4 separate regions of the Homo sapiens genome follow, and all the other regions are reported to be linked to region 2. Evidence: microRNA targets listed by miRTarBase, many of them from high-throughput screens and not tested one by one. Region 2 holds a microRNA gene; each other region holds the end of a gene's coding sequence.

Region 1 (3,091 bases), not on the chromosome of region 2:
ACAGACTCCGAGGTGATGTGGGTCGGGCCTGCACCCTCAGTGGTTTCCCTTCTGGAGTCTGGGCCTGCTCGGCCAGTGCCCTCATTTTCTGTGGAGCTGTTCCATGTCTGGGCACAGAAGCACCTCTCTGGGAGCAGGTGGGGACGTGAGAGCCCCCTGCTGGAACTGTTCTGTCACAGGCCCCGGGAGGAGCTGGACCTGCTGCCGGAGCCCCTTGGGGCAGCGGGTGAGCCGCGGTGTGAGAGACTCGGGCCTGGAGCACCAAGGGCCCCACAGCAGGAGGGATGGGGGTGCAGCCTCCAGGGCGCTGGGGTCCTCTTGGCTGACCAGGAGCCTTACACAGGGGCTGCCTCATGGGGTTGGCGGGAGCCCCGGTGTGAGGGAGACAGCCACAGAGGCAGCCCCGAAAGCAAAGCGCGGAGCAGATGGCAGAGGATCCCACGTGGCAGAGGAGAGGGCAGCAGAGGATCCCACGTAGCAGAGGAGAGGGCGGCAGAGGGTCCCGTGTGGCAGAGGGCAGCAGAGGGTCCCACGTGGCAGAGAAGAGGGCGGCAGAGGGTCCCGCGTGGCAGAGGATCCCACGTGGCAGAGAAGAGGGCAGCAGAGGATCCCACGTGGCAGAGGAGAGGGCGGCAGAGGGTCCCGTGTGGCAGAGAGGGCGGCAGAGGGCCCTGCGTAGCAGAGGAAAGGGCAGCAGAGGGTCCCACGTGGCAGAGAAGAGGGTGGCAGAGAAGAGGGCAGCAGAGGGTCCTGCGTGGCAGAGAGGGCGGCAGAGGGTCCCGCGTGGCAGAAGAGAGGGCAGCAGAGGGTCCCGCATAGCAGAGGGCGGCAGAGGGTCCCGCGTGGCAGAGGAGAGGGCGGCAGAGGGTCCCGCGTGGCAGAGAGGGCAGCAGAGGGTCCCGCGTGGCAGAGGAGAGGGCAGCAGAGGGTCCCGTGTGGCAGAGAAGAGGGCGGCAGAGGGTCCTGCGTGGCAGAGAGGGTGGCAGAGGGTCCCGCGTGGCAGAGGAGAGGGCGGCAGAGGGTCCCGCGTGGCAGAGGAGAGGGCGGCAGAGGGTCCCGCGCGGCAGAGAAGAGGGCGGCAGAGGAGAGGGCAGCAGAGGGTCCCGCGTGGCAGAGAAGAGGGCGGCAGAGGGTCCTGCGTGGCAGAGAGGGCGGCAGAGGGTCCCGCGTGGCAGAGGAGAGGGCGGCAGAGGGTCCCGCGTGGCAGAGGAGAGGGCGGCAGAGGGTCCCGCGTGGCAGAGGAGAGGGCGGCAGAGGTTCCCGCGTGGCAGAGGAGAGGGCGGCAGAGGGTCCCGCGTGGCAGAGAAGAGGGCGGCAGAGGAGAGGGCGGCAGAGGAGAGGGCGGCAGAGGGTCCCGCATGGCAGAGGATCCCACGTGGCAGAGAAGAGGGCAGCAGAGGATCCCACGTGGCAGAGGAGAGGGCGGCAGAGGGTCCCGTGTGGCAGAGAGGGCGGCAGAGGGTCCCACGTGGCAGAGAAGAGGGCAGCAGAGGGTCCCACGTGGCAGAGAAGAGGGCGGCAGAGGGTCCCGCATAGCAGAGAAGAGGGCAGCAGAGGGTCCCGCGTGGCAGAGGAGGGCAGCAGAGGGTCCCGTGTGGCAGAGAAGAGGGCGGCAGAGGGTCCTGCGTGGCAGAGAGGGTGGCAGAGGGTCCCGCGTGGCAGAGAAGAGGGCAGCAGAGGGTCCTGCGTGGCAGAGAAGAGGGCGGCAGAGGGTCCCGCGTGGCAGAGAAGAGGGCGGCAGAGGGTCCCGCGTGGCAGAGAGGGCGGCAGAGGATCCCGCGTGGCAGAGGGCAGCCGACAGGCAGCTCTGAGAGGATACAGGGTTGGGAAGCTCAGGCAGAAGGCCATCGTAAGAGCTAAGAGCTACGTATGGAGAGTGTGGAGGTGATGAGAACTGAACGGGGGCCGCTGGGCTTAGTGACCAGGCAGCAACTGTGCCCTTGCTGAATTCCAGGCGCTAAAGAACTTGGTGAAGAGTCCGGGCCCCGCTGAGAGGGTGGCGCGTGCGCAAATGTGGAATCCTCACCCAAAGTCCTCAGCCTCAGAGCACACGAAGGTGTTTCTCCTCCCCTGTCGAGCGGGAACCGGGGGTCCAGGCTGGGACGCTGATTGGATGTGACAGCCCAGCAGACTCCATGCTCGGGGTGGAGGCTTCAAAGGACACGGCAGGCGTCAGGGACTTTTCTTTCTCTTTGAGATGGGGTCTTGCTCTGTTGCCCAGGCTGGAGTGCAGGGGCGCAATCACAGCTCATTGCAGCCTCAATGTCTGCTCAAGCAATCCTCCAGCCTCAGGCCTCTAACATGCCAAGATCACAGGTATGAGCCACTGTGCCTGGCCTAGGGACTTTTTCTTTTTCTTTTTTTTTTTTTTTTGAGACAGTCTCACTCTGTCGCCCAGGCTGGAGTGCAGGGGCACGATCTCGGCTCACTGCAAGCTCCGCCTCCCGGGTTCACGCCATTCTCCTGCCTCAGCCTCCCGAGTAGCTGGGACTACAGGCGCCCGCCACCACGCCCGGCTAAGTTTTTTGTATTTTTAGTAGAGATGGGGTTTCACCGTGTTAGCCAGGATGGTCTCGATCTCCTGACCTTGTGATCCGCCCGCCTCAGCCTCCCAAAGTGCTGGGATTACAGGTGTGAGCCACCGTGCCCGGCCGGCCTGGGGACTTTTTCTAGTGATGTACAAGCACTTGCACACATTTTATTGTACAAAATTCCCCAGTACTGCTTTAATAGTGAAAAAAACACACACACATACAAAAGAAGTTTCAACACGGCTCGTCGTTAGAATTCAAAGTCTTCTCCTGCCATGGCGAGAGCCCAGGCGAACCTCTCCCGCTGTGTTTTGCTGTAGATCTTCTCCACTGGCACCCTGAACCGCTTGCACCTGCGGGAGGCAGCATCAGCCCAGGCAAGCAGGCAACTCACCCACCTTGAAGGCCAGGTCAGGGTGCTCGGCAAGGGCGAGCGTCCTCCATGCAGCAGAGACACCAGAGCCGCCTGGTGTAGCTGGGACCTGCTCCTCTAGGCCAACCCCACCCCACGCATGCCGCCACCCTGGAGCATCAGCGAGGTGTCAAAGACAACCTGCTGT
Region 2 (3,091 bases):
TAAGGCACCTGGAAAAGGATGGAGAGGATGTGCCCAGCAATCAATGTAACTTTGATCAAGCTATTTAACCTCTCTCTGCCGCAGTTTCCTGATTTATAAAATGGCAGCATTGTAACAAGGGCTAACAATAATAAATATATTCGGCCGGGCACAGTGGCTCACACCTGTAATCCCAGCACTTTGGGAGGCCAAGACAGGTGGATCATGAGGTTAGGAGTTCAAGACCAGCCTGGTCAACATGGTGAAACCCCGTCTCTACTAAAAATACAAAAATCATCTGGGCATGGTGGCATGTGCTTGTAGTCCCAGCTACTTGGGAGGCTGAAGCAGGAGAATTGCTTGAACCGGGGAGGTGGAGGTTGCAGTGAGCCGAGATTGCGCCACTGTACTCCAGCCTGGGCAACAGAGCAAGACTCCATCTCAAAAAAAAAAAATTAAAAATAAATAAATAAATAAATAAATTCATATTTATATGTGTAAATTTTTCCCCAAATTCAAGCATTTGGGATTTTTCACCTAATTTACTTTGGGGAAGTTGCAAACTATATTAACTGTTTATTAAATATGTATCTAGCTCTCTATAAGAAGACTTGCCGAGTGGTATTGGAGGCATATTTAAATTTATAAGTGCAGCTTTATGTAAGCCAACTCAATGAAAATACAGAAGTAAAAGAAAGATCAGATAGTGATAATCTGCTGCCACAAAAGACTCAGAATAAGATTCTTTTAATTAGACATTCCTCCTGGTGAATATAAGCCAATTTACTTTGGAGAAATTAGACTTACATAAATTTCAAAAATAAAGATAGCTAACTTTTATTTTTTTCATACTGCATCCTAATTAATATTTTTTTTTATCCTCACAACAATTTTATTGTGGTAGATACTATTAGCCTTCTCATTTTAGGTTAATAGTATCTACCGCAATAAAGAAACAGAGGCTAAGAGAGGTTGAGTAGCATAACCAAAACCATTAATCAGGTAAGCAATAAGCCAGGACTCAAACCCAGTCCTCTCTGACTACAACCAAGAGCTGTTGTTATATATAGAGCCATGTACTCTGATTGTATATAAAGCTGTGGTTAAATCAATTTAATGATCAAAATAATCATCTGGTCTGATTTATGTGGAAATTATTGACCCTTCACTATTGCTTTCATATTCCTCTTCCTCTTTAGCATTCTCAGTTAATTTCTAGGTTCTGTTTGTAATCTGCACGTGAGGTCCCATTATTTCCCTGTCCATCTTCCCTTCCTCTCGTTATATTGCTCTATTCAGCACACAAATTGGACATGTTCAGTAAACAAGGCAGGCCTTGGCTTAAAACAGCAAAATTTGTGATATCTTCAGAAGAGCTTTCTTCAAACCCATTCCTGACCTGTGCTTGTGGAGCCAGGACTGCTGAAATTACTGTTGCTCAGCCCAGCAGCCCGTCAATACAGAAACTTTACAGAGGAAAGCAAATGCACATTCATGATGAGATGGGTTGGTGGTGCTGGAGGAATTTGCTGTGTGGGAATGGAGATGTGAAGAGTTGTTTGTTCTTCATAAGAGAGCGTGGCTGTGCTTCTCCCAGGAAATGGAAAGGATGCCAGCTGAGCACAGGCACCTCTAGCACTGGAGCAGTCAAGTACATAGGAGAATGAGCACAGCAGGATTCCTCATAAGATGGAGCTATGTTTGAACGAGGGCACTTCTGGACTCCTCAGACCCACGTAGGCTATCTAGGCCAGGGATAGTGTCTGCTCATGGTTATTTGCCTGAATAGTGACCAAAAGTTTTGAGAAGAACCTTGCCGAAGGACAGAACTTTAAATTAATTTAACATGCAGATTTTTTGAATGGTTGGACTGTATTTATCTTTTCATGGTGGCAAGGCACCTCAATAATCAGGATGCATTGTGTTCAGGATCTAATTTCCCAAATGTCAGCATGCAATACATTTCAAAAGTCATTCACTTTGCAATGTATTTTTCCCATTACACTCATATGGCAGAAATTATTGCAAATAATAGCCTAGGAAGTTGCGATCGTCATTATATCAGCTAAGGGGTCTGACTGGGCTGTTGACAGTGAAGGTTATTTCTACTGAAAAGAGAAAGAGAATTCCACACTAGTTCAAAAATAAACATATTTGATGTCTTCTATCAACTGCTCCTCCACCTCTCTCTAGCTTCATACTTTCCCTTGATTCCTCAAGCCTGTCTATTTATAGATGCCTGAATGTATAATAACTTACTATTTTGCCTCCGTGTATTGCATGTAATTCTCACTGCTTAGAAAAATCTATGCCCCTTCTTTTCTGTATATTTCCATCTAATCTTTAAAGCCAAAATTTACCTTTTTTCAGATGCCTTCCTTATAATAAACACATCCCAAGTGTAATCATTTTTTCTTTTTCTTTTCCTTATCTATTGCAGCTTTAGTCTACACTACACCATATTTCTTGACGTTACTAAAATGTTTCTTTGGATTTTACCTCAAGTTGGTTTATGGGTGTGTGTTTTAGCCTCCAATTAGATTTTTTTCTCTGGAAAGCTCAAGGGCTGTGTCTTTTATTTCTTTAACATCCAGAATAGTACAATGACTCATATTAGAATGAAATAAATGACATACCTGTGATATACTCTCACCAGCCTTATACATTTGACAAGGATACCAAGAAAGATTTTATTAAAGAGGCATCAAATCAATTTCAAAAGGTTAAAGATGAAATATGAACATCCAATCTGTCCTTCATGGATTTTTCATCCAAGACCTTATTAAAGCTTTTCTTGTTTATATTTATATTAGTTTCCTTTATCAAATCTCAGAATAACAATTAACAAATTGATGGAAGATTCTGTCTTAGAAAACAACAAGGTCAGTCACTCATTACCAATTTATTCTTCAACAAATTTAATTATCCCATAAACATTTATTGAGCATATACTATAGAGACAGCCTATAGCAGACATAGAAAGGACATTAAATATACAATCTATTTGAGAAACCAAGACACACAACATGAAATAAAAACAAAAAGAGAACAGAAACTTAAAAGTTCTAAATAAGTGACCCAGACAACATGGTGCTGAGTTAGAGAGGTGGGA
Region 3 (3,091 bases), not on the chromosome of region 2:
AGTGAGAATCCTCAAAAAAAAAAAAAATTAAAAAAAAAAAAAAGTACTTGCCTAGAGTGTTTGTTTGATAGCAGTTAACACATACTCAGCTTGGTCATTTTGAGTAATGACTTTTTTTTTTTTTTTTTGAGATGGAGTTTCTCTCTTGTTGCCCAGGCTGGAGTGCAGTGGCGCGATCTTGGCTCACTGCAACCTCCGCCTCCCGGGTTCAAGCAATTCTCCTGCCTCAGCCTCCAGAGTAGCTGGGATTACAGGTGCACACCACCACGCCCGGCTAATTTTTTGCATTTTTAGTAGAGACGAGGTTTCACCATGGCCAGGCCAGGCTGGTCTTGAACTTCTGACCTCAGGTGATCTGCCCACCTCGGCCTCCCAGAGTGCTGGGATTTTAGGCGTGAGCCACTGCGCCCGGCCGAGTAATGACTTCTTAAAAATAAGAGGTACAGTTGTTTAACTTAATCAGGTTTCTTATGTGCAGAGTCAGATTCTTAGGGGAGAGAAAGAGTAAATAATTAGGCCTTGTCTACTAGCTTGAGGGAGCCAGGAGTTACCTGTTCCAGGCAGGAATCCTGAGAGAATGTACAGCTGTGGAAATTGGGTGAAATTCTAACAAGGAGACGGGATAATAACTTCCCCTCTTTTTTCCACTTCTGCTTTCCTACTCCCAACCAAGAGCTGGGATGTTTGTGTCTAAGTTCTTTGGGGGCTATGTGCCTGAGATGGTGCTCACCCCTGATGATCAGCGCCTGCTGGCCCATGTCACCCTGGAGCTCCAGCACTATCACCAGCTACTTGAGAAGGTTCGGTAAGTAACTGACACCTCTGTCTTTTCTGCTGGCATGTTGAGAGCCTCCTTGTATTGGTCTCTGTAGGACATTACACCTTGGCCTGCTTCCTCCCTTCCCAGGATCCGGGATGCCTTGCGCAGTATCCTCACCATATCTCGACATGGCAACCAATATATTCAGGTGAATGAGCCCTGGAAGCGGATTAAAGGCAGTGAGGCTGACAGGTAGGTAAGCGGGGAGGGTTGGCTAAAGGCATAAAGTGGCTTGTAAGCTGTATCCTCCTGGAGGTCTTGACTAATGTCTCCTCTTCCTCAGGCAACGGGCAGGAACAGTGACTGGCTTGGCAGTGAATATAGCTGCCTTGCTCTCTGTCATGCTTCAGCCTTACATGCCCACGGTTAGTGCCACAATCCAGGCCCAGCTGCAGCTCCCACCTCCAGCCTGCAGTATCCTGCTGACAAACTTCCTGTGTACCTTACCAGCAGGACACCAGATTGGCACAGTAGGTGGAAGAGCCAGCCTCTCTTAAAATTGATACTCTTGCCATGCAGCTTTTGGAGTGGGTGAGAGAAGACCTAACATCTCTCCAGTGTTACTTTGGTCATGGGACTCCTAAGTTTCTGATATAAAGTCCTTGGTAGTCGTTCACAAGTCCGGAATTATCTGTACATCTTCATTGTTCTTCATGCCAGAAACCAGAACCTGGCACACAAAACTAACTGGTAAACAGATATTTGAAGAAACACTGTGATCACCTAGTCTCCATAATGCTAGCAGATAGTGGGCAGGGAAAATACAGGAAAGCCATTTCCTCTTTGACACAAAATGAAAAAGTAAGTACATTGCTAAACTTCTGGATCAGCCTAGCATCCTTAGAGAGCTTAAAGAATCTTTGACCCTACAAATTATTTGGGGTTTCACAGGGAAAGCTACAGCTAATTTCCTAAAATCAGCAGATATTAGCTCAGTGTTAAGCTCGTTCTTTCTAAAACACATCAGAGATTGGGGTTGGAGAGGTCATCTGTATAGTCTATGGTAGAGTCTGTATCCAATCAGTAGATGATTCTGGAACTCTTTTTTTACAGGTCAGTCCCTTGTTCCAAAAATTGGAAAATGACCAGATTGAAAGTTTAAGGCAGCGCTTTGGAGGGGGCCAGGTGAGAAAGCTAAAGGCTGTGCCCTCGCTCCACAACAGCCACAGCATCACTTCCCTAATTTCCCTAAGTAGTCCTCACCCATCACTCTTTCCATCTTTTGGCCCTGCCGCTTCCTCACTTACAGTTTTTCTTTCCTGTCTTAACTAGAAGAGACCTTCGACTTAAAGGTAACCACTTTCCCTCTGAGATGCTGTATAAAACTGGAGGTTAGGGGATATTTATGGTTGCTGGTGATAACTTTGTTGTTCTCCAGGCAAAAACGTCCCCGAAGCCAGCAGTTGTAGAGACTGTTACAACAGCCAAGCCACAGCAGATACAAGCGCTGATGGATGAAGTGACAAAACAAGTATGAAGCTTAAGCCCTGTGGGAGACTGGACAAGCTGAATCCTAAATAGATCTTTTTCTTGCCTCACTGTTACCTCCCCACCCCCCTTTATCTTAGGGAAACATTGTCCGAGAACTGAAAGCACAAAAGGCAGACAAGAACGAGGTTGCTGCGGAGGTGGCGAAACTCTTGGATCTAAAGAAACAGTTGGCTGTAGCTGAGGGGAAACCCCCTGAAGCCCCTAAAGGCAAGAAGAAAAAGTAAAAGACCTTGGCTCATAGAAAGTCACTTTAATAGATAGGGACAGTAATAAATAAATGTACAATCTCTATATACAAGCTGAGACCTTTCCTTTTGTCTACTCCAAGCCTTCCCCCTGCGTATGTGGGATTGAGGGTCACATCATTGGCACTAGTGAGAGGGTAGTCAGTAGCCACTTCTGGGAAAGGTGGGTAGTGTGGCCCAAGTGGGGGACTGATGCTCCCAATTGTTCATGCTTGGTGCAGATTCACCATTCGGTCAATCAGAGCTCGGCGAGTCGCCTCTACTTCCCTGGTCAGGCGCTCGATTTCCTGCTTGAGCCGTTCATTCTCTTCAGCTAGCTGTGCCACTTTCCTTTCATTCTCCTGTTCTTTCTCCTTCATGCGCTGCTTTCCAGCCCGGGCTGGGGAATGACCACTCTGTTTCCGTTTCCTGGTTCTCCCTTGGTCTTCCTCCTCTTCCTCCTGAGCCAGGGAGCTCTGACTGGAATCTGGAGAGTGAGGGCTCTGGGAGGTGCTTGTGACCTCTGCTGGTTCTGGCTCCTCCTCAGTCAGCCAAG
Region 4 (3,091 bases), not on the chromosome of region 2:
CTGTGCCTATGCAAACATATGATACATTAAAAACAAAAGAACATATAGTGCCTGTCTCTGAGGGGAACTGTGAAGCTATGGAAAGGTGTTGAAGAAAACCTTTTTATAGTATGTATTCTTGTAATTGAATAAAAAATAAAATTACAAAAATCAGGCTTGGAAGTATTTAATAGCAGACAAAATATAGTTCAATATGAAAAGCATTATATGAGACAAAGGCAATTTTCAAAAATTGATAAAACATTCCACCAAAAATCATGACTACGCATCTAACAGCTTCAAAATATAGAAAATACTCAAATGCAAAATCAACAAATCTGCAATTACAGAAAAAGACTTCAACATACTTTTAGAAAGTAGTAACTCAAGTAGACAATAATAGCTAACACTTACCGGGCACTTCTTATGTGAGTGGCACTGAAACATGTGCTTTCATGCATTACCTAAGGCTAGAGAAAATGTTAATAACTTAGACAAGTCATACATGTATCATAAATATCTTTGTACCTGACAAACAGAATAAACATCTTTTTAAACACCATTAGATAATTATTTAAAGACCACATATTGGGAACCTACCCCTAAAGAACAATAACAACCACAATAACAACTATCACCCCAGTAAACATGGCTGGCAAGAATACAATTAAATGAACATTATCACTGATTTGGCAACAGCTCTTATGAAGAATAATTTGGCATTATGTATCAAGTGCCCATACTCTTTGACAAAGTAACTGTCTTTCTGATAATCTATCTTAAGTAATACAAAAATGGGGGGAGGGGAATAAAAATACAAAATATTAGAAACACTATCGTCAAAATGAAAGGGCATGGCTGAGTATGGTACAACCGTTCAACAGAATATTGTCATTAAAAACATTTATGGAGGCTATATTATATAGTCAATAACAGAAAATGCTTGAAAGGTTAGAAGTACATCATCAAATTATGTTTTATATAGCTGTAAAATAAACCCAAATCATCTTTAATGAACACATACTATTATGGTAAAAAAAAGTCTACAATTTCTAACTTTCACCTTAGGCAGCTTTTTATTTTGCATCCTTTTTTTCAACTTTGTCTTCTATTAGCTGTGCAAGAAATACATGTCTGCTAAAGTTACACGATCTTCGCACAACAGCAACCTACACATTAGTCTACAAAGGGGAACAAACCCAAATTCCTCAGAAGTCTGAGTCCACTGTTGCCTTCTTTCTGGCCATCTGGCAGTTACAATATAGCACAGAATGACTATGCAAGTTAAATATTCATCTTAGACATGGACATTTGCTTTGGGACTCCTAAAGTGGAGTCAAATTTGATCTCTACAGAAACTCTACAATGTAGCAGAGCACTGTGCGTACTTATTGACTCCCAGACAAGCCGAAACCCCGAATTTGTCATTTCTATCAGTTTTTATATAAATTGTTCTTACCTACTTATTGATGCTTACAATTTGGCAATTATAAGGGGCAAAATTGGAGCAAGTGTTTTGGGTAAATAACTCCTTACAATATATTAAAAATACTTACAAACAATTCTTAGAATCAAACACTTACGTAAATACTTTTTTAAAAAAATAGGTCCAAAAGACTCAGCCCAGATCGGCTTTGAAGTTATATCAAGATTTAAGTCTACTTCATGCCAATGAGCTACTCCTCAACAGGGGCTGGTTTTGCCATTTGAGGAATGACAGCCACTATGTTGTGTACACAAGAGAGCTGGATGGCATCGACAGAATCTTTATCGTGGTTCTGAATTTTGGAGAATCAACACTGTTAAATCTACATAATATGATTTCGGGCCTTCCCGCTAAAATGAGAATAAGGTTAAGTACCAATTCTGCCGACAAAGGCAGTAAAGTTGATACAAGTGGCATTTTTCTGGACAAGGGAGAGGGACTCATCTTTGAACACAACACGAAGAATCTCCTTCATCGCCAAACAGCTTTCAGAGATAGATGCTTTGTTTCCAATCGAGCATGCTATTCCAGTGTACTGAACATACTGTATACCTCGTGTTAGGCACCTTTATGAAGAGATGAAGACACTGGCATTTCAGTGGGATTGTAAGCATTTGTAATAGCTTCATGTACAGCATGCTGCTTGGTGAACAATCATTAATTCTTCGATATTTCTGTAGCTTGAATGTAACTGCTTTAAGAAAGGTTCTCAAATGTTTTGAAAAAAATAAAATGTTTAAAAGTAAATTATGGCTTATAGGAGCTTATAACTTTATTCAGATAGCATCAATCAGGGATGACCAGAACACATTAGGACCCCAGATTATTCAAAAACTTTAACGAATTTTAAGGGGAAGAATTTTATCTTTTCCCTTAAAATGCAGTCATAGAAATTAGAGGATGACTCACTGCCACAGTGTCTAAAAGCATTTGCTAGCAAAGAGGCAGGACACTAATTTGTAAACTGCTCAACTGTTCTGACTGGAAGGGAGGCCTGGAGCTCTGCTATCACCAATCCTTCCCTTCCCTCTACTCCACATCCTTCTAAGGAGCATGATTTGAAAATTACTTTCCTAGGTTAATGGGCATGTGCATCAATGGAGAGAATAGTATAAGCAAGTGAGATGTAGACTAAGCAAAATTTAGATGGAGAAGCACATTTTAAAAAATTAATAACTTAAAAGTCTCAAGTTATTAATTTTTTTTTTGCTAACTCAATTGGAAGTAAGACTATGAAATATTTCAGTGTGTTTCCAATTCCCAGTTGAATGCAGTGTTTCAGAATTTCAGGTATTTCTTAAGATCCTCGAAAACACTGGTGCTGTCAAGTCCAAGTTCCTCGTACAGGAATTTAATTTGGGCTGTAATCTAAAAGAAACACATTAAAAAAATTAAATAGAAGGCCTTTGTAGTAAAATGCCACTGTTTAAGCTTCTCTTTATCTATCCATCTTTACCTAACCGTGAAGTCAGCAATTTATGGCAAGAATACTTTCATTCGAGAGAGAGGCAGAAGGCTTCCAACAATTAAGATTAAATTATTTTCTTTAACAGAGCTCACGTATCAAGTACAAGAGAGAGACATTTCTCTTGATTGACACAGTGTCCCTCCCTCCCCTCCTGGGTC

What was found. The annotated mature microRNA hsa-miR-633 reads CUAAUAGUAUCUACCACAAUAAA and lies in region 2 at 871-893, opposite strand. An mRNA with a match to its seed (bases 2 to 7 or 8) in the 3' UTR can be bound and repressed. Matches are read on the target gene's strand: a 7mer-m8 pairs with bases 2 to 8, a 7mer-A1 pairs with bases 2 to 7 and ends in A, and an 8mer does both.
Region 1: the mRNA of TOP1MT is a reported target of hsa-miR-633. Seed matches in the 3' UTR shown: 8mer at 2,727-2,734.
Region 3: the mRNA of DDIT3 is a reported target of hsa-miR-633. Seed matches in the 3' UTR shown: 7mer-A1 at 2,562-2,568.
Region 4: miRTarBase lists PREPL as a target of hsa-miR-633. Seed matches in the 3' UTR shown: 7mer-A1 at 167-173.

What each region holds. Positions count from the first base shown.
Region 1 is chr8:143,306,660-143,309,750 of GRCh38, forward strand. It overlaps TOP1MT (DNA topoisomerase I mitochondrial), which reads right to left. Exons shown (of 14, transcript NM_052963.3): 14 at 2,665-2,884. The coding sequence ends at 2,782. Among named protein-coding and RNA genes, the nearest start is that of ZNF696, 17 kb to the left of the region's middle. RefSeq lists enhancers at 647-1,147, 1,148-1,648.
Region 2 is chr17:62,942,077-62,945,167 of GRCh38, reverse strand. MIR633 (microRNA 633) reads right to left here and starts at 953; the gene lies at 856-953.
Region 3 is chr12:57,514,047-57,517,137 of GRCh38, forward strand. DDIT3 (DNA damage inducible transcript 3) reads right to left here. Exons shown (of 4, transcript NM_004083.6): 4 at 2,547-3,091. The coding sequence ends at 2,763. MARS1 (methionyl-tRNA synthetase 1) reads left to right here. Exons shown (of 21, transcript NM_004990.4): 16 at 674-805; 17 at 908-1,012; 18 at 1,104-1,290; 19 at 1,874-1,945; 20 at 2,199-2,291; 21 at 2,389-2,606. The coding sequence ends at 2,535. Among named protein-coding and RNA genes, the nearest start is that of MIR6758, 2.9 kb to the left of the region's middle.
Region 4 is chr2:44,318,613-44,321,703 of GRCh38, forward strand. It overlaps PREPL (prolyl endopeptidase like), which reads right to left. Exons shown (of 14, transcript NM_001171613.2): 14 at 1-2,833. The coding sequence ends at 2,744. SLC3A1 (solute carrier family 3 member 1) reads left to right here. Exons shown (of 10, transcript NM_000341.4): 10 at 1,587-2,882. The coding sequence ends at 2,027. Among named protein-coding and RNA genes, the nearest start is that of PREPL, 41 kb to the right of the region's middle.